2 separate regions of the Homo sapiens genome follow, and region 2 is linked to region 1. The links come from fine-mapping of genetic effects on gene expression. Tissue or cell type: monocytes after LPS. Region 1 holds a variant in brackets; the other region holds the start of a gene. All regions are shown on one strand. Distances are from middle to middle.

What was found. PIP is the estimated chance that this variant, and not a neighbour inherited with it, causes the effect. A credible set is the group of variants that fine-mapping cannot tell apart.
Region 2: CTSG starts here. The variant in region 1 is the best candidate, but not a certain one, in a credible set for the expression of CTSG in monocytes after LPS (Kim-Hellmuth 2017, PIP 0.82).

What each region holds. Positions count from the first base shown.
Region 1 is chr14:24,350,083-24,361,027 of GRCh38, reverse strand. It overlaps the pseudogene LOC124903413. Among named protein-coding and RNA genes, the nearest start is that of NFATC4, 13 kb to the left of the region's middle. The variant GTATATATA/A (reference allele first, on the strand shown) is at 4,122.
Region 2 is chr14:24,571,161-24,582,105 of GRCh38, reverse strand. It overlaps CTSG (cathepsin G), which reads left to right and starts at 5,856. Exons shown (of 5, transcript NM_001911.3): 1 at 5,856-5,937; 2 at 6,694-6,841; 3 at 7,296-7,431; 4 at 7,607-7,861; 5 at 8,296-8,588. The coding sequence starts at 5,883. The coding sequence ends at 8,469.

The DNA.
Region 1 (10,945 bases):
ACTGTGTAAGTACTTATTTAATGTCTGAGTACCCCACTAGAGTGGCAATTCTCTAATGAGAGGTACCTTGTCTTATTTCTCTACCTACATCTTTACTTTTTGATTGATCTAATTAGCAAATACCTGTGGAAATAAATGAAGGCTAACCAATGAAAACAGGCAAATACTATTTATTCAGAGCTCTCTATCACAAGTTAGTCAGCCACCATCACTTGCATTTTGGCAGAAACTCAAAAGCAGGCAGAGGAGTGGGAAAGCTTTATAGTGGACAAAGGGAAGGCTTCAGGTATGCCCTGACTGGAGGCTGTGGCATGGGGAAGTCATGTGTGGCCTAACTAGAAGTGGGGCATCATTTCACCCGCAAAATGGAGTAAAGAAAAAAATATTATAGAAATGGTGCATCATACAAGATTGGTTAGGAATGCATATTTGGCTTTCTCTGATTGATCCTAAGTTGGAAGAGGGGACAAAAATTTAAAAAGCTGTCAGTTATTAATCAAGTCCTGGCTCTTTGGAGCAGATTTTTGCAAGGGTTGTTGTTTGGATTCCTGGGCTGGTTGCTAGAGATAGTGATCTGACTTTTCACAAGTCTGACTTTTTTTTTTTTTTTTTTTGAGACAGAGTCTCGCTTTGTCACCCAGGCTGGATTTCAGTGGCATAATCTTGGCTCACTGCAACCTCTGCCCCCTGGGTTCAAGCGATTCTCCTGTTTCAGCCTCCTGAGTAGCTGGGACTACAGGTGCCTGCCACCACTCCTGGTTAATTTTTCATGTTTTTAATAGAGACAGGGTTTCACCAGGTTGGCCAGGCCGGTCTCGAGCTCCTGACCTCAGATGATCTGACCACCTCGGCCTCCCAAAGGGCCAGGATTACAGGCATGACTTTTAGGCAGTTGGCTTCCTGGGCTGGTCATGATAGATAATGGGTTAGTTTCTTGGACTAATTGCTGCATATTGTGGGTCAGGGTTCTATTTTTATATATGGCCATTTTCCATCTGTATATTCAGTCTCTTACATTTATTGAACATCTATTATGTGCCATACACCATGCTAGGCTCTGGGATACAAAGATTGATGAAGATCATGATTGACGATTGAAAAGTTGACAAGATATGGTCTTATCAACCTCCTCCTGTCTTACTGCTGCACCATCCTTAGCATCCCACTGCATGGGAGATGACCACTTATGGTGCAGCCGTCACATCCATGTTTAAACCAACAAGAAGAGAAAAAGCAGAAAAATGCAAACTCTCTTCCCCCACACACCATTTATATTTACTATCGATTGGCCAGAATTTAGTCACATGGCCACATATAGCTGCAACAGAGGCTAGAAAATGTATTTATTCCAAGTTGACGTATGTCTGGCTAAAAAATGACAGGATCTATTACTAAGGAAGATGGCGAGAAAGGTTGTTGGACTCAACTAGCAGCCTCTGCAAACTAGGGAAATGGGGTTTTGGGATTACCCATAGATTCCAGTTACCAATATTTTCTCTTTTGTCTCTTTCTTCTACTATAGGATATTCTTTTTTCTTCTTTTTTTAAAAATAATTTTAATGTTTGTTTTAGATTTACGAAGTACATGCACAGGATTTTTACATGTACTGTAGGATATTCTTGATCTACTACATAATTACCCTCATTCTGTACTACACAGAACAAAACAAGTTCTTTTCATAGTTAAAAAGAAACAGCTCTGTGAGATTCACTGTTATCTATTTTAAAGATGTTGTTTATGGTTACCTATGGCAACTACTCAGAGTGCTCACTCTGTGATCAGGGACACTTTTTCTCTTAGGTCTTAGTGTCAGCAATAACTATGCTTCTCCTGGACCATCAGGCAAAAGGCAAGACCAATGAGTTTTTTTATTTTTATTTTTATTTTTATTTATTTATTTTTGAGACAGAGTCTCACTCTGTGGCCCAGGCTGGAGTGCATTGGCACGATCTTGGCTCACCACAAAATCTGCCTCTCAGGTTCAAACGATTCTCCTGTCTCAGCCTCCCAAGTAGCTGGGATTACAGCTGTGTGCCACCACGCCCAGCTAATTTTTGTATTTTTAGTAGAGACGGGGTTTCACCATGTTGGCCAGGCTGGGTCTCAAACTCCTGACCTCAAGTGATCCGCCCTCCTTGGCCTCCTAAAGTGCTGGGATTACAAGTGTGAGCCACCACACCCGACCCCATTGAAACTTTTAAAAGGGCAGATGTTGAGCTTTGTTGTGGGCCAAGCACTTGAAATATACATTGTAGACCATTAGTGCAATTAATTTGGTCCACTCTAAAATTATGTTCTGTCTTTTTGGATAAAATCCATGATCCAATTAAATTCATGACCACGTAACATTCATGTTCATGGTCACATAGAATTCTCCAGATTTTGCCTTAGAAAGTTCCCATGGCTCCTTCTGGGCATCATTCCTGTTTATTTTGATGTTTTTGCTTCCCACCTTCTGGTTTATCCTAGTCAGAGGATGAGCCTAAGGAATTGAGCTATAATAGCAAAGCAGATTTCGCTCTCTCCTCTGCAAGAAGAAAACAGTGAAAATTGTTTCAACAGGGACTATATTTATTGTCTCGCTCTGTCACCCAGGCTGGAGTGCAGTGGCGCGATCTCAGCTCACTGTAACCTCTGCCTCCCAGGTTCAAGACATTCTCTGCCTCAGCCTCCCAAGTAGCTGGGATTAAAGGCGCCCGCCACCATGCCCGGCTAAGTTTTTGTATTTTTAGGAGAGACAGGTTTTCACCTCTTGTCCAGGCTGGTCTTGAACTCATGATCCACCCCCCTGGGCCTCCCAAAGTGCTGGGATTACAGGCATGAGCCTCCATGCCCAGCCCCAGATCATTATTCTTACTTTCACTGCAAAAAACTGGTGAGGTTGTAAACTTTGCTGCAATTCAACAACTTGCAAGATCAATTTCTTCTTCTTTTTTTTTTTTGAGACGGAGTCTGGCTCTGTCACCCAGGCTGGAATGCAGTGGTGTGATCTCGGCTCACTGCAGCCTCTGCCTCCTGGGTTCAAGCGATTCTCCTGCCTCAGCCTCCTGAGTAGCTGGGGCTACAGGCACCTGCCACCACGCCCAGCTAAATTTTGTATTTTTAATAGAGATGGGGTTTCACCATGTTGGCCAGGCTGGTCTCAAACTCCTGACCTCAAGTGATCCTCCCGCCTCGGCCTCCCAAAGTGCTGGGATTACAGTGCAAGATCAATTTCTGAATTCAGTTTTTAGCTGATATCTGCAGAGAGAAGGGTGCCAGGCAATGGTGCTTTATTTTCTTCCGGGCTTTGAGGTGGATATTCTGAGTTTAACATTTTTATTCTCTCACCTTTAGCTATCCAATGCCATTGGAAACAAAAATTCAGCCCTAGAATCCCACATTCCTCATCATCTTTAAAGTGTTCCATAGGAACTGTTACCTGGTCCTTCAGGATCTCATCTAGCTTTCCTTGATGGAATGTGGAAGGAGTCTCATTGGGCAAAAGCTCAATCTTTCCCCCCTATCCAATTCCAAATGCCCCATACATCCTCTGAGGTTTTGGTGCATACAGTCCTATCTATAGAGTGGCAAAATTAAGTAATCATTTAATTTACCATCAGTGAGATACTATACTGAGGTTAAATGTGCATTGTACTTTCATCTAGTGACTAATATATATGATTGTTTAACCAATACCAGAATACGTGGTTGTAAGAAATAAGATTTGGCAGACAGAATAATGGCCCACCCCCAACCCCCAATTATTAGATATTCCCGTTTTAGTTCCCAAAAACCTATAAATATGTTATCTTACATGGCAAAAGGAACTTTGTAAATGTGATTAAGTTAAGGGCCTTGAGATGGGGGATTATCTTGAGTTATCTGGATGAGCCTAATATAATCACAAGTGTCCTAAAAAGTACAAGGGGAAACTGAGTGCTCATGTCTATAATCCCAGCTACTCAGGAGGTCAGGGCAGGAGGATTGCTTGGGGTCAGGAGTTCAAGACCAGCCCAGTCAACATAGCAAGACCTCATCTCTTAAAAAAAAAAATATATATCTATGTATATATATATATGTATATATGTATCTATGTATATATATATGTATATATGTATATATGTATATATGTATATAT[GTATATATA/A]TGTGTGTATATATGTATATATGTGTATATATGTATATATATGTATGTATATATATGTGTGTGTATATATATATGTGTGTATATTTATATATATATATAGGCTGGGGGCGGTGGCTCACACCTGTAATCCCAGCCCTTTGGGAGGCCAAGGCAGGTGAATCATTTGAGGTCAGGAGACCAAGACCAGCCTGGCAAACAGTGAAACCCCATCTCTACCCAAAATACAAAAATTAGCCAGGCGTAGTGATGCGTGCCTGTAGTCCCAGCTACTTGGGAGTCTGAGGCCAGATAATCACTTGAACCCGGGAGGCAGAAGCTGCAGTGAGCAGAGATCGTGCCACTTGCACTCCAGGCTGGAGACTCCATCTCCGAAAAAAAAAAAAAAAAAAAAGATAGTGGAATGGGAGGCAACAGAAGACAGTCAGGCGGAGCTGTGTCTGTGGGAAAAAAAGTCACAGAGAGATGCAGAGTTGCTGGCTTTGAAAATCTAGGAAGAGGCCATGAGTCAAGGAATGTGGGTGGCTTCTAAGAGCTGGAAAGGCAAGGAAACAGATTCTCTCCTAAAGCCTCCAGAAGGACCACAGCCCTGTCAATGCCTGATTTTAGCCCAGTGAGGCCAGTGTTGAACTTCTGTCCTACAGAACTGTAAGATAATACATTTGTGTTGTTTTAAGCCACTAAGTTTATGGTTATTTGTTACAGCAGCAATAGGAAAGGAATACACAAGGGGTGGTCTCATCTCTACAAATGCTGTCACCGACCCAATCTCCACAGTTTTGCTTCGAATCCCTATGACTCTCTAGAGATTTTACAATTCAAGGAATAACTACTTGCACAGGGGACTCGAGAGTGGTTCCCCTACCACTGCCCATTTTAGGCCTTGTACCATTAAAGGAACTGGCAGGCCAGGTATGCTGGTGCATTCCTGTAATCCTAGCACTTTGTGAGGCTGAAGTGGGAGGATCATTTGAGCCCAGAAGTTCAAGACCAGCCTGGGCAACATAGTGAGACCCTGTCTCTACAAAAATTTTTTTTTTAATTAGCCAGACGTGGTGGCACATGCCTGTAGTCCCAGCTACTTGGGAGGCTGAGGCACTAGGTTTGCCTAAGCCAGGAGGCTGAGGCCGCAGTGAGCTATGGTAATGCCACCACCCTCCAGCCTGGGCAACAGCAAGACCCCATCTCAAAATAAATAAATAAATAAATTTAATTAAATAATTAAGTAACTGGCAAAACAAGAAAAACAAAAATATGTCACAGTATTGTTTAGGTCTACTGTGATTGACCCCAACCATCATGGGGAAAAAAGGTTACTACTAAGCAGTAGAGCCCAAAAGGGTATGCCTGAAACTCCAGGCACTCCTCTAAGTGCTTCCCACCATGCCCACTGCTGAGGGTTAGCAGAAGATTGCTACAAGCCTACATAGGAAGGACTGTCAAGTGCTCAAAACCCTCCAGAATGAAGGTAGGCCACCCTGCTAAGTATAGCAGCAACAAAACACAGCAGCCAGCTAAGGGGCTGGTCAAAGACAAGGTAGAAGAAAACAAAAACAGAAGCAAACTACCAGTTACCAACCTGTCCAATGGCCGACATGAGGGTGGTGTCTTTCGTTCCGTTTTCTGCTTGAGTGTCCAATGAATAAAGTGTTACCTCCTTCCCTTACATTTCCTCTTCCTGCTTATTTATTTATTTATTGAGAAAGAATCTCACTCTGTCGCCCCGGCTGGAGTACAGTGGCGTAATCTTGGCTCACTGCAACCTCCACCTCCTGGGCTCAAGAAATCCTCCCACCTGGCCACCTGGAACACCGCAATCCCAGCACTTTGGGAGGCCAAGGTGGGTGAATCACCTGAGGTCAGGAGTTCAACACCAGCCTGGCCAACATGGTGAAACCCCATCTCTACTAAAAATACAAAAATTAACTGGATGTGGTGGTGCATGCCTGTAATCCCAGCTACTCGGGAGGCTGAGGCAGGAGAATAGCTTGAACCCAGGAGGCAGAGGTTGCAGTGAGCTGAGATCGTGCCACTGCACTCCAGCCTGGGCGACAGAGTGAGACTCTCTCTCAAAAAAAAAAAAAAAAGAAAAGAAAAGAAAAAAAGAGAGAGATCCTCCCACCTCAGCCTCCTGAGTAGCTGGGATTACAGGTGTGCGCCACCACGCTGGGCTAATTTTTTGTATGCTTCAGCAGAGACAGGGCTTCCCCATGTTGGCCAGGCTGGTCTCAAACTCCTGACCTCAGGTGATCCACCCACCTCGGCCTCCCAAAATGCTGGGATTATAGGCATGAGTCACCATGCCTGGCCTCCTCTTCTTGTTTCAAATAGAAATAATCATAACTTTTATTCTTTCTTCTATTTTCTCCCTGTTATAAAGAGTTAATTAGTGTGGCTTCCTTAAAGAAAGGTAGATTCCCACAGAGATTCACATCATATGAACTAATAGATAGAAAGGAAACTTACAAACTAAACAAGCAAAAGAGGTTATGTCTTTAAAACAAAATCATGTCACTTCTCAGAATGTAAACTAAGGGCAGAATCTATTTCTGATTCATCTGTGTCTTTCCCTATTGCATAACAGAGTGCCTTGTGCTTTCCATGTGGTTAATAAATATTTGCTGAATGAGGGAGGAGGGAAGGAGGAAGGAAGGAAGAAAGGAAGGAGGGAAGGAAGGAAGGAAGGGAGGGAGGGAGGGAGGGAGGGGGAGAGGGAGGGAGGGAGGCTATTCCTCCCTTCTAGCTCATATTAACATACTTCCTTCTCCCGCATGATTCGCCATCATGCAGCCTGCTGTCTTCTCTCCTCCATCCCTGCTTCTCCCCAGGAACAATCTCAACCTCTTACCTTGCCCCTTCTACCTTGCGGATCCCTGTTCTATTGGTGTAACTTCTTGTTTCTCCAAATCTTTCAGTCAAAACTTCCTCCCTCTCACCTTACCTGAGACCTGGACATTCTCTCATAACCTTTGCACAGACAGGCCATCCTTTCACATAACAGAGAAGAAAGTGGAGTTTTCCTTTCCATGGCCTCATAGCAGCTTTCAGAATCACTCTTGATCATTTTCACTTAGAAACTCCTCTGAAGGTTGTGCCACTCATTTCATTCACTCATGCCACCCTGTCCCTATCTGAGTCATGGCCACCTGACAACCTAAAGGACTCCTCTGGTGGACTTTGGCCCCTGGCTCAGGGTGTCTCTCTACCTCATCCCTACCAGCCACCTGGGGACTAAGGCTATTCCAATACTCCAGGTTATGTTCCTCGATCTAATGACCCTTACATCTATAATTTAAAATACGCAACATACTGTCCACTTACCAGGGTTTAGGAATGCTCCATTCCATACTACCAAACTCTGAAATTACACTTTTTTTTTTTTTTTGAGATAGAGTCTCGCTCTGTCACCGAGGCTGGAGTGCAGTGGTGTGATCTCAGCTCACTGCAAATTCCGCCTCCTGGGTTCAAGCAATTCTCTGCCTCAGCCTCCCAAGTAGCTGGGATTACAGGCATGTGCCACCACGCCTGGCTAATTTTTGTATTTTTAGTAGAGACAGGGTTTCACTATCTTGGCCAGGCTAGTCTTGAACTCCTGACCTCATGATCCACCCGCGTCAGCCTCCCAAAGTCCTGAGATTACAGGCGAGAGCCACTGTGCCCAGCCTTGAAATTCCCCTTTTTGACCCAAACCTTGAGTTTCTGTGCCCTGCTCTCTCCTCACCAATTCTGATTTCCATTACTTTATTCTCCTAGACTAACAACCCCCTATTCCAGCGTTAGTGCTCTCCCTGTCCAACCTGGGATCCACGTGAGCCATTTCAAAAGTGTTTTCACAAGCAATCAAGATTTCCTCAGCCCTTAACTTTCCATCACTTCTCAAACTGAGGTAAGCCAAGCATGCATTTCTCTGCCTCCTGGTCTGGAGAAAGTTTCACAATCATGATGATTGATTCCATAATAAATCACTGCTTTCTAACTTCGGCTGGACCCTCGCTGCTGCTCCACAAACATTTTATCCATCTGTAGTTATCTCTAGCCGACTTCACCATGATCAACTAATTTGCATCAGATCAACCCTCTGAGAGCAACTACAAAAGCTGGGTACAGTTATTAAAAAAATTTTTATTTCAGTAGCTTTTGGGGTACAAGTGGTTTTGGGTTACATGAATGAATTGTATAATTGTGAAGTCTGAGATTTTAGTGCACCTGTCACCCAAATAGTGTACAACGTACCCAATATATAGCTTTTTATTCCTCGCCCCGCTCCCACCCTTCCCACATCTGAGTCTCCAATATCCATTATACCACTCTGTATGCCTTTGCATAGCTGGGTACAAATTTTTTTAAATATGTTTGAAGACAGTGGAAATTCATCAAGGCAGGAGGCTTTGAAGGGCCAACGTCCCAGAAGAAAGGGAAAGCATGTTGAGGTGAGGCCAACATTCTGCATGGTCTGTCCCATGGGGGATATTTATCGATTTGTGAGAGGCAGCCAGACTCAGCAGGAGATAGTGCCTAAGAGGTAGGAGGCTGAGAAGAACTTTCAGTAGTCTACAGTCCTGAGAAAACAAAAATGGGAATTTAGGACCTGTTAAGGAGGAAGGACCTGTTAAACACCACAGGATATCGTTAGCGTCCCTGAAGAACTATATTCTAGGACTAAAGCTGTATCGGTCAGGGTTTAATCAGGACACAGAAACCACACAGTCATTTGAAACAGGAACGTTTAATATAAACAAGTATTGTGCTCACTTTGGCAACACATATACTAAAATGATACAGAGAAGAATAGGATGGCCCCTGCACAAGGATGACATGCAAATTCATGGAGTGTCTCATATTTTTATTTGCAAAAATAAAATAAAGAAGCATTAACTCCAACAGGGTGTTGGCATACTAAGGGATTAGCTAGTAAGAAGAAATGAGAATTCCAAAGGACACAGGAACAGCAAATTTAAGAAAAACCCACTACTCCTAGGGCTGAAATAGCTGTGAAATTGGCCAAGCAGATGCCAAAGCAAGTTATTCATGGGGAGGTGCCTTAGCAGTTGCAACAGGCTGAGAAGTCACCCAGAAATGTGCCAGGGGAAGCTTTTGGCTGCTAGGCACTGCTGACCACTTTGCACTGCCTGAGTGTACACTGAAGAAATTGCACACGCTGCAGGAGTAAGGCAAAGGAGCAAACCAAAACCAGGAAGATGGACTTCTTCCTGCTCCAGTGTTCCTCCAGCACCCACTACTGACAGCGCTTAACACTATGCCAGCTGGCAAAAGAGAGATACGATATTCCCCCTTATCTGTGGGGATATGTTCCAAGACCCCTAGTGGAGACCTGAAACCACAGATAGCACCAAACTCCAGCCAAAGAACGCCAAAGTTACATTTTCTTTTCTTTTATTAGACAGGGTCTCACTCTGCCACCCAGGCTGGAGTGCAGTGGTGGGATCACAGCTCCTTGTAGCTTTGTTCTCCTGGGCTCAAGCGATCCTCCCACCTCAGCCTCCCAAGTAGCTGGGACTACAGATGTACGCCACCACACCCAGCTAACACATTTTCACTTAAAGCAGCACTTTATGGTTTCTTGTTGGCATATCCAAATTGTTAGCAACACTACTCTTTGCTTTGGGGCCATTATTAAGTAAAATAAAGATTACTTGAACACAAGCACTGAGATACCCGGACAGTCGATCTGATTACGAATACCAACACTAAGTGAATAACAGGCAGGTATCGTAGACAGCATGGATAATTCCCTTGATCGTTCTTTATACTTAACCTAACTTCCATCTCTTTCCCTCCCTTCACTACTAAACCTCTTCATTTTTTATTTGTTTATATTTATTTTTGCAAAATCAGAGTCTCCCTATGTGGCCCAGGCTAGTCTCAAGCTTCTGGGCTCAAGCAATCCTCCTGCCTCAGCCTCCCAAAGTGCTGGAATTACAGTCATGAGCCACAGCACATGGCCTAAAGTTCACTTTTTCTTTTCTTTTCTTTTCTGAGACAGTCTTGCTCTGTCACCCAGTGGCGCAATCTCAGTTCACTACAACCTCCACCTCCCGGGTTGAAGCAATTCTCCTGCCTCAGCCTCCCAAGTAGCTGGAATTACAGGCGCCAGCCCCCACGCCTGGCTAATTTTTGTATTTTTAGTAGAGATGGAGTTTCACCATGTTGGCCAGGCTGGTCTTGAACTCCTGACCTCATGATCTGCCTGCCTCAGCCTCCCAAAGTTCTGGGATTACAGGCATGAGCCACTGTGCCCGGCCTAAAATTCACTTTTTAAGATGTTGAATCTCATCCAAAAACACCCTCCAAGCAGACCCATAAAATGTAACCATCACAAGGTCCTTCTCCCACACAATGGGAGCTTGCTCACTACTCCTCTCCTTTCCAGCTCCAATGCAAACACAGCCAAGAAGTGCAAGGGAGTTAGTGCCTCCAGATGCAATCCTCAACCAATGAGTGCAGGCACTGGCAGATGAATGTTCCAGCCTCCCATCCTTCATGTGGACAATTCTGGGAGGCATTCTTTAAATTTGGAGCCTCTACTGGAAAGGAGCCTCCACTGCCTACAATAACAATCTCAACAAAACATCCTCATATTGGCTTTCTTCCCTTCCTAGTTCACACTCTGTTCCCTCACTGCTGCTTCTTGGGATCCCCTCCCCAAAACACTACCTTTGTTAAATCCAAGCTCAGGCTCTTCTTTTTGGGAAACCCAAACTTAGACGCCTTCTCAGTAGCAGCTGAGTCTGATAAGTCTCTCCTCCCTTGGCTATCCTGGTTCTGCTCCGGCCTCTCTGACCTCAGTTTCTCTCACTG
Region 2 (10,945 bases), 220 kb before region 1:
AGAGGATTTGCATTGTCCGCGGCTTATGGGGCCCAGGGAGGAGGTGGAAAACGTCCTACATTAATGTCCCAACATCCCAGAGGAGAAAAAAATTATAACTGACGGAAATGTAATAAAACAGTCAAAAGCAGATGTAACCAGCTATAGATATTGTGAAACATATTGGTCTTTTTGTTCAAATATTACAATTTTTATTAAAATAAAAAATAAATTAAAAGTATGTGCCCCACTCTACTCATATATATTCCCCTCTCCATCTGAATGTTCTCTCTAATCCCCATCCTCTGGCAATCAGATTTTTTTTTAAATGTATTACAAAATATACACACAAGAGAAGTTGATAAAACATAAATGGAGAGTTTAAAGAATAATTATAAGTTAAACACTACATTTTATGTCGGGAAATTGGGTTTGTTCAACACTACTGAAATCTGCCATATGTTTCTTCCTACTCAAAATGCTCTCTCTGTCCTCCAATTCCAGAGTTAACTACTATTCTGACTTTGGTGATAACTATTTCCTTGCTTTTCATTATACATTTACCATATATATACATATATATATGGTACATGTATATATATACATATATACATATATACATATATATGTATATATATGTATATGTATGTATGTATTTCTATCCAGTATAGTTTCATTTTGCCTAGTTTTGAACTTTATATAAATAAAATTAAAGTTGTCTTCTTGGGTTCTTTTAACTTATGCTTGTAAGATTCATTTGCATAGCTGCATGAAGGAAGAGTTTTATTTTTATGGCTATGCAATATTCCATTATATGAATATACTACAATTTGATTATTCATGCTGCTGTTAGTGGACCTTCGAAGTGTTTCCAGTTTGAGGCTATCTTGAACATGCTGCTATGACCTTCTTGGACATGTATCTGGTAGAAATTTGCACCCGATGTTTCTCTAGGGTATATACCTAGGATTGGGAAAAGAGCCAACATGGTAGCTGCAACTGTTATTGCACTTTTTTCTTTTTTCTTTCCTTGAGACAGGGTCTTGTCTTGTCACCCAGGCTGGAATGCAATGGCACAATCATGGCTCACTGCAGCCTCAACTCCCACTTCAGCCTTCCAAGTAGCTGGGACTACAGGCACATGCCATCACACACAGTCTCGAACTCTTGGGCTCAAGTGATCCCCTCACCTTGGCCTCCCAAAGTGCTGGGATTACAGGCATGAGCCACCATACGTGGCCTTCATTGTGCTTCAAATGGGTGCTTCTCTAATATCTAGTCAGAGTAACACTTTTTCATGTTTATTGACCACTTCGATTTCCTGTTTTGAGATAAAACTGTTCAAGTCTTTTGGCTATTGTTTTATTAAGTTAATTGTCTTCTTCATTGCAAGTTTTTGTTTTGTTTTGTTTTGAGAGTCTCACTTTGTTGCCCAGTGAGGCAATCTCCACTTACAGCAACCTCAGCCTCCCCAGTTCCCCAAGCGATTCTCCTGCCTCAGCCTTCCGAGTAGCTGAAGTTACAAGTATGTGCCACCATCCTGGCTAATTTTTTTGTGTATGTTCCTAGTAGAGACAGGTTTTCACCATGTTGGTCAGGCTGGTCTCCAACTCCTGACCTCAAGTGATCGACCCGCCTCGGTCTCCCAAAGTGCTGGGACATGGGTGAGCCACTGCACCTGGCCAGATTTCTGAGTTCTTTATGTAATTTGAATATAAGCCCTTTGTTGTTTATGTGTATTTCAAGCATCTTTGCCTACTCCATGAATGGTCTTTTGTTTCTCTCAATTTAGATGTGTCAAATTCATCAGTCCTTTTCTTCATTATTAGTACTTTATATACAGTACTAAAATCTTTACCTATCATGAAGATATTCTTCCATTATATATTCAAATCATTATTCCTACTTGGATCCATAATCTACCTAGAATAGGTTTTTTGATATTTTGGGAGAAGAAGGTCAAGTTTTATTTTTCCACATAGAAAATATTTGTCTCTATAGGACACCATAAAGGCAATTTATTATCCCAGTACCATTTATTGGGGATAAAAAAAGAAAATAGTCTTTTCCCTATTATGATGAAAGATGCAACATCCATCATAAATCAATCCATCCATGTGTATGTCAGCGTCCACATGCGTGTGGAGTCCTTATTTCTGGTCCATTAGTCCATGTTTCTATGCCTCATCAATACCACGCTATCTTCATTCCCATGGCTTTGTTTGCAAAAGCAAGTCTTCCATCTTATTCTCATTCTCTAATGGTGACCTGGCTATCATTAGCCTTTTGTTTTCCAAATATACTTACAATCAGTTAAGTTCTATAAAATACCGCTCGGTGCAATGAATCTATATAGATCAATTTTGGGAGAGCTGACATTTTTACAATATTTAGTCTTCTTCCAATCTATGAACATGGAATCTCTTCATGTTTAGGTCTTCTTGAATGTCTCTTCATTCAGTTTTATAATTTTCACCAAAGAGGTCTTTCACATATTCTTTTAGATTTACATTTAGTTATTTGATCATTTCCATGCCATTTAAGTATTACTTTCTAAAAATTTCTTTCTAACAGTGTTGCAGTACATGTAGAAATATGATTAATTTTTAAATTGATTTTTTCTAGCAAATCTGTAAAACTCTTATTAATTATGGTAATTTACCTGTAGATGATTTTGGATTGTCTACGTATACTATCACTTCCTCAAATCATTACAATTTTGTTTTCTCTTTTCCTGTCTTTATACCTTTCATTTCCATTTCCTACCTAACTGCACTGGCTAAAACTGCTAATGTACTGTTTGTTGAACAGAACTGATAATAATTTGTATTCAGGCATTATTGTAATGTTTTGCTCTCAAAAAAAGGTTTTAACACTTTTCCATTAGGTATAATGATTGCTGTGGGAATTTTGTGATAACTTCTATCAGATTAAAGACACTCTTTTTATTCCTAGTCTGCTAAGAGTATTTTTTAAGTAAATAAGGGTAAATTTTAGGCCTTCATTGTTTCAATTAAATAATCACATGATGTTTCTTCTTTAGTCAGTTCATATGATGTGTTACAGCAATTTTGCTTTTCAAATGAAAAGTCAACTATGTGTTCCTAGAATAAACCCAAATTACTTATGATATATTAATATCTATTTGCTTATTGATTGATTTGGTTTGCATCAATATTCAAAAGTTTATTGACCTATAATGTTTCATTTCTATATTGTCTCTATTGGGTTTGGCATGGAGGTTATGCTAGTCCCATAAAGGGAAGGGTAGCATCCGTTCTTCAGAAGAAACTATATAGCATACTTTAAATATTTTCTACAGATTTCTCCTTAATGTGGTCATCAAAAACAAAAGTTGAAATTTTGTGGATTCAGCACATTCCCTTGGAACAATAGCAGCTTCCTAACTAGACTCTCATTATTCCTTCAACTTGATCTGATAGTCACTTCAATGCTGGTAGTTCTTCGAGGTTTGTAAGCTTTTTAGATATCTTAAATAGCTTTGATTACTTTTAATGAGAAGATTGCATGAAATTCTAGGTCACTATTAATGAAATTTCCTAATCAATCTTTATTACATGAGTGAATGCATATATTTTACTCCTTTTTTTTCATATGTGCAGGTTTTTCTTTATCCCTTTCTTCTATTTTTAAGTTAAACTAACATTTTTAAAACAAAACAAAATGTTGAAAATTTTTAATAAATTAAATTATGCCAAATGCTAAGGCACTAATAAAGGTGCTATACTATTCTCTCTTTGCTCCCTTCTTCTTCACGTTACTTTTCAGATGCATAAAGACGTTTTATAGAGCCTGTACAAGAGAAGAGGTTAAGCTCTGTGCAGCTCTAAAAATAAGTGAAAAAATTATATATTTATGTATAAGGAAAGGAACCCTAATTTTCATGAGATTTTCAAGAGGGCCTATTATACTCCATAAAGACTGGGAATTGTATCTCACACCAATCAGAATGGCTATTACTAAACAGCCAAAAAATAACAGATGCTGGCAAAGTTGCAGACAAAAGAGAACACTTATACACTGTTGGTGGGAGCAGTTCAACCATTGTGGAAAGCAGTATGGTGATTCTTCAAAGAGCTAAAAGCAGAACTACCATTCGATCCAGCAATCCCATCACTGGATATTTACCCAGAGGAATATAAATCATTCTACCATAAAGACACATGCACGCAAATGTTCACGGCAGCACTATTCACAAAAGCAAAGACACGGAATCAATCTAACTGCCCGTCAATAGACCAGATAAGGAAAATGTGGTACATATACATTGTGGTACATATACATATGCAGTCATAAAAAAGAATGGACTCATGACCTTTGCAGGGACATGGGTGGAGCAGGAGGCTATTAGCAAACTAATGCAGGAAACCAAATAATACATGTTAGTTAGCAAACTAATGCAGGAAACCAAATAATACATGTTCTCACTTATAAGTGGGAGCTAAATGATAAGAACTGTGAACACAAAGAAGAAAACAACAGACAGTGGGGTAAGAGGAGGGAGAGGAGCAGAAAAGATAACTATTGAGTGCTGGGCTTAATATCTGGGTGATAAATATGTACAACAAATCCCCGTAACATGTGTTTACCTATGTAACAAACCTTCACATGTACCCCCAAACCTAAAATAAAAGTTAAAAATAAATACCTAAGTAAAAGATTTTCAAAATAAAAGACAGAAAAAAAGAGATTGGGAATTGTATTAGTCTTCAATTCTGCTATTTCTGCAAAAATTATACTGGATTATAACGGTTTTCTGTGCATACACAGAATCTTCTAAATATTTTAAGTGTTTTTAATAATCCATTGTGTTACTCTGCAGTAATTTGCTGTTCTTTTCTCCCATTGTTGAGTATGCGGCTCTAATTCTTTTATAGGTAGCACAGCAATGAATGTACCTCCTTCTCAGAAGCTTTTGCTCCTGGGATTAGGTTGATGGGCCTCTAATGTCACCAGTGAAATGGGATATTAGATATTTTCCAGCTAGGATACGACAGCTCCCAATAAAACCAAATTACTAAGCCTTTTCTGCAAGCAAGGAGCCGTCTGGAACATAAGGACTTTAACCTTGGGTAGGAGACAGGCAAGCAGAAGTCTTCAATTGTGTCACAATTTTCACTGAGGACTCAAGTGACCTAAGAAAGTAATTGTGATTGTCAGAGCCTTGTTCTTCCTTTTCTTTCTCCAGCCGCACGCTTCACCTACTCAGGAGAGTGCCTACGCAATCTGACTTGACAGCTTCTAGAAAGAAATTAGAGCAACAGGGGTCTCAGCAGGGTGGTCTTGGGCCAAACACTGAAAGCAGGCAGGCTTACCCTTTCCTCTTCTGCCCCCTTCAACTTTTTCCTGATGTTCTTACCCACATCCCTCACCACACCACACCCTTTCATTCATCCTTGTCCCAGACTTATTAAGTATATACAGATAAGCAATCCAGGGAACTTGCATTCATTAGGAGAAACCCAGAAATTCAAAAGCAATAATGATCTAATCCCAGAGGAGTAGAAAACAGGAAGTGGGCAGCTGCCAGCTTTCTTGCTTTGCTGGAGTATTCTGGAATTTGATGGGTTGAGGGTTCTGGACACAATGCCCCAAGCCCCTTCCTTGTTGTGCTGGGTTCCTATTTCTGCTCTCGGCACTGACTTAGCAGCTGCTCAAGAGCTCACTATGTTGGCTTGGATTACACGGTCTCACCCACATCTCCGGCAGTTTGTGGGCAAACTTCCTGAGCAGCCTTGGGTGATGAAACCTTTCATGGTAGCAGGAGAATGGGACTGTGAATTCTCAATCCCCTGTCCCCACCCCTTCCTTCCTCTCTCAGGGCCTTAAAGTCTAGGAGGAGGAAGCACAGCAGCAACTGACTGGGCAGCCTTTCAGGAAAGATGCAGCCACTCCTGCTTCTGCTGGCCTTTCTCCTACCCACTGGGGCTGAGGCAGGTGAGTGACCATCCCCACCCTCAGAGGCCTGACCTCATCCCATAGATTCTTGAGCCAAATTGCCTTGGTATATCCTAATTCTGTACTGTTGAGCAAGTTATTTGAATTTGTGTTTCCTCATCTATAAAATGAGAATAATATTAATACCGATCTTGCAGAGTTGCCATGAGAGTTAAATAAGTTAGAGTATTTAAATGTCTTGGAATTGCCCGCACACTATAAGTGCTATAAAAACATGCTTTGTGTAAATAATTTGGCAGCATGTGTCAGACCCTACCTAGGAGGTAAGAATACAGCAATAACAGTACCATCAGCTCATGTCTAGATTTTTAAACACCAGTCCCACGTGGTCTTGAATTGGACTCAGAGGGCTCTGGGAAGCTCCATGAGGATAAAAGTATAAGGGAACTTCAGGAACAATCCTGTACTTACAGCAAAGCATTCTCCTCAATACCTGAGGCTGAAGCTGGCCTTGCCTGGAACAAGGGTTGTTCTCCCTCTTTTGGAGAGGAGGAGGGAGGTGAGGCCTAGGATGGGGAAAAGGGCTCCTTTCAAGACAGCAGTGTTTCCTGTAGAACCCTGGAGCCCCCTCCCAATCTGCTGCCCCATAGACTCCAAGCCTCAGCACCATCTCCTCCCTCTCCTGCACCCTCTCTCCTGCCGTCCCCATCTTCCAGCCTTTCTGGAGCCACCAATCTGGTACCCACATTGCAGGTTCAGCAAGCATAGAGCTAAGTGCCAAATGCTTCCTTCCAGGGGAGATCATCGGAGGCCGGGAGAGCAGGCCCCACTCCCGCCCCTACATGGCGTATCTTCAGATCCAGAGTCCAGCAGGTCAGAGCAGATGTGGAGGGTTCCTGGTGCGAGAAGACTTTGTGCTGACAGCAGCTCATTGCTGGGGAAGGTGAGGAGCTAAGGAACTTCCTGGCCAGCCAGGAACACAGCCCTGCGGAGCTCTTCGGTGGAAGAGCCATCTGAAAGAAGAGTTGTAGCAATGAAAGGGTGAAAGAAAGACCAAGTGAGTCTTTGCGGGAGGGAACAGGCCAGTGTAAATGAGGAGGAAAGGAGGATAAGATCAAAAAGAGCAAGAGGAAGAGATGGAAGACACATATTGGGGCTCAAAATATAAACTCAGGCTATTTATCAACTTAATCTGGGGAAGCAAACCTGAAGGCAAGTACCACCCTGTCATCCCTAGCTCAGAGCTGCTGAGAAAGAGGATACAGCTGAGCCCCAGGGCCCTCCCATCCCCTCGATTCTGGTTAGCTGCAGTCTTGCCCTCCCCGTGCTGTCTGCCTACCCTGCAGAGCTGGTGGACCATAGCTCCTGCAGCCCAGACCTACCTCTTGCTTTTGCAGCAATATAAATGTCACCCTGGGCGCCCACAATATCCAGAGACGGGAAAACACCCAGCAACACATCACTGCGCGCAGAGCCATCCGCCACCCTCAATATAATCAGCGGACCATCCAGAATGACATCATGTTATTGCAGGTACCACCTACCTGGCCCTCTGGCTCCTTCCTAGTGTGTCCGGGGACAATGGAGGAGGAAGTGAGGGCAAGGCTCCGGGGTGGCGGGGAGGGCATGGGATGTGTACTGCACCAGCGACCCCCGAGCCTTGGCTGGAGGCCCCAGCTGAGCGGGAACGCCTACATTCTTCCTCCAGCTGAGCAGAAGAGTCAGACGGAATCGAAACGTGAACCCAGTGGCTCTGCCTAGAGCCCAGGAGGGACTGAGACCCGGGACGCTGTGCACTGTGGCCGGCTGGGGCAGGGTCAGCATGAGGAGGGGAACAGATACACTCCGAGAGGTGCAGCTGAGAGTGCAGAGGGATAGGCAGTGCCTCCGCATCTTCGGTTCCTACGACCCCCGAAGGCAGATTTGTGTGGGGGACCGGCGGGAACGGAAGGCTGCCTTCAAGGTAAGGCATGGGCATTGGCCAACACACCCCGGGAGAGAGGGGCCCGTGCAGAGCCAGGCAGTGCGAACAGATTCCATCCCCACAGCCTCAGCCTGGCAGCCAGACCAGGGTGGGCTGGGGATTGTTTTCCCCATCAACCTGGTCTCTGGGGGAATAGGAGGAAGACCCACAACACATACATAGGCAACATTCTCCTGGAGAAGGGAGAGGTACCTTGACTCAGATTGGGCTGGAGACAGTAATTAAGGCAGAGCTGAAGTCCAGCGACCGAAAAGATCCAGAGGCTTGGCTCCTGTACCCCACCGATCTTCCATCTCACACACACCCAGCAATTGAAGGGGCCCACCCACCCCTGCCTTCCCTGAGAGCCCGGAGCTCAGGGAAGCAGGAGCAGGGAGGCCTGTCTCAGTCTCCCTTCTCCTCTCTACCTACAGGGGGATTCCGGAGGCCCCCTGCTGTGTAACAATGTGGCCCACGGCATCGTCTCCTATGGAAAGTCGTCAGGGGTTCCTCCAGAAGTCTTCACCAGGGTCTCAAGTTTCCTGCCCTGGATAAGGACAACAATGAGAAGCTTCAAACTGCTGGATCAGATGGAGACCCCCCTGTGACTGACTCTTCTTCTCGGGGACACAGGCCAGCTCCACAGTGTTGCCAGAGCCTTAATAAACGTCCACAGAGTATAAATAACCAATTCCTCATTTGTTCATTAAACGTCATTCAGTACTTAGTTTGTTTGGATTGCTACAACAAAATAGCACAAATTGGGTGGCTTATAAATAACAAATTTATTTCTCACAGGTCTAGAGGCTAAGAAGTCTAAGATCAAGTCACTAGCAGATTCAGTGTCTAATTAGGGCCCATTTTCTGGTTCACAGACAACCATCCTCTCCCTGTGTCCACATATGGCAAAAGGGGCAAGGGAATTCTCTGATGTCTCTTTTACAAGGGACCTAGTCTCATTCAAAGAGCTCAGCTTTTACGACCTAATCACATCCCAAAGGCCCCACCTAATGCCATCACATTGGGGATTAGGTCTGGGAAACATAGGGAAACACTGTCTCTACACAAAAATTTTAAAATTAGCCAGGCATGGTGGCATGTGTCTATAGTCCCAGCTACTTGGGAGGCTAAAGTGGAAGGATTAGTTGAACCCACGAGGTTGAGGCTTCAGTGAACCATGCACTCCAGCCTGAGCGACAGAGCAAGACACCATTCCAAGAAAGAAAAAAAAAAAGACTGGCAGGCCAAAAAGACAGAACTGAAATTCCAAAAAAAAAGACCTACTTTAGTGTATGAAAAAGGTGGCATCTCAAATCACTGGGAAACAATGGATTTTTAATAAATAGCATTAGAACAACTAGATAGATATTTGGAGGGGATGGAAGCTATAATTGGATCCATTCCTCACACCATACTTCAAAATAAACCTCAAATGGATCACAGATCTAAATGCAAAAACATTAAACCATACAAGCACTAGAATAAAGAAAAATTAAAGAGATTTTGCTTCTTTAAAAATAGCTAACAAACACCCATGTTAGTAACAGCATTAATCACAATAGCCAAGGATGGAAGAACCATAGCGTCCATCACCAGCCCGCATGCTTGTCCTAAACCTTGTGAAAGAAAATAGAATCTCAGGACCCAAACTTCACTATTCCAAAGGGAAAGTTAAGCTTGGGAACTGACCCATGGGGGGAAAAAAACTGCTTTCTATTTATTTCCAAACAGCTATAATCCACAATCCTGTGGCATCACCTCATTTCCTCTACTTGCTTTTCCACATGTTTACTTTATCTTGTGTAAGATGTAGATTTACTGAGGCTAATCAGAACCTCACAAGAACATAACCATCTGCCTGAAGTCCTACTCTCTCTCCCATTTTTACCTTCCTGCTTGCTCTTTCCCCTTTAAATACTGAAGTTCCTAAAACCCTTTAGGGAAAAGCACAGGTCATAGATGCTCCTGTGGCTTGTATTTTTTCCCCAGGTGCATCTTCAACCTTGGCTAAATAAACTTCTGTTAGATTGAGACCTATCTCAGTCACTTTGTGGTTTATAGCCCTTCCTTGCGCTATACCAACCCCACTGTACTTATAAGCCAGCATTTTCCTCACCAATGTGATGAAGATCTGTCTGAGAACTTTTGATACTCTGAAGGTATATAAAACACCTCACAAAATGTTGACCTAAATAACAATACATTTGCCCTGAAGATTAGCCCATGACTGTCTACATCAATATTATATTCAAACAAAAGATTACTGAAATCACATAATTTAAAATTAAGCTTTAAACACCTGCTGAAAGTAACTACACAGAATCAGTCAGGAGGTTTTCCTAGGTAAGTAGAAATGTTAATTACTCCTTTCAGTGTGACATTTACCATCTGAACTTTTGCAGTTTTCCTAATCTTAAATGAAATAATCCCTGAACAGACATTTTATCAAATCCAACAGGCTATATACAGAAATGCTTTGATGAATTTGACCATTATTTTATGTGTATCTCTTATCAGAAAGTTATTTGTCTAATATTCAGTGTAAGCCATTTATCAACAAAATTTTAATCAATAATACATCTTTAACAATCCTCAGTCATTCTCTCTGTATTTACTAACTGCCTACCCATAAGAATTATCTATTACTGGCATGCTCTGGGGGATAACAGTCTCATTATTAAATGTTTGCACTGACAAATGGAAAGAATACTTGCTAGTAGAAAAGTCCCCCATTCAGCCCTTCCTCCCTGTGGCATTTACTTAGGGCCTCAGAGCACTGCCCAGTCTCAGGACTCAGTCCCCAGGAAGCCCCGAGGGCATTCATCTCATCTTCAGGTCTTTCTCTGCCAGTCAGCACTTCCAAGGCAGCTCTTTGTCTCTGCTGCCCTACTGAAAAGGTCTCTACAGACCCCAGGGTACTCACCTCCAGAAGGTGACCATCCCAGAAGCCAGATCCACCACTTCTAACAAATCTGCACTCTTCCCTGTTGAGTAAACCTCATCAGCAGAACTTTGGCAAGAAAGCATTTTGCACAATGAAAACCAGTGCAAAAGAACACAATTCTTTCTTTTTCCACGTGCAGA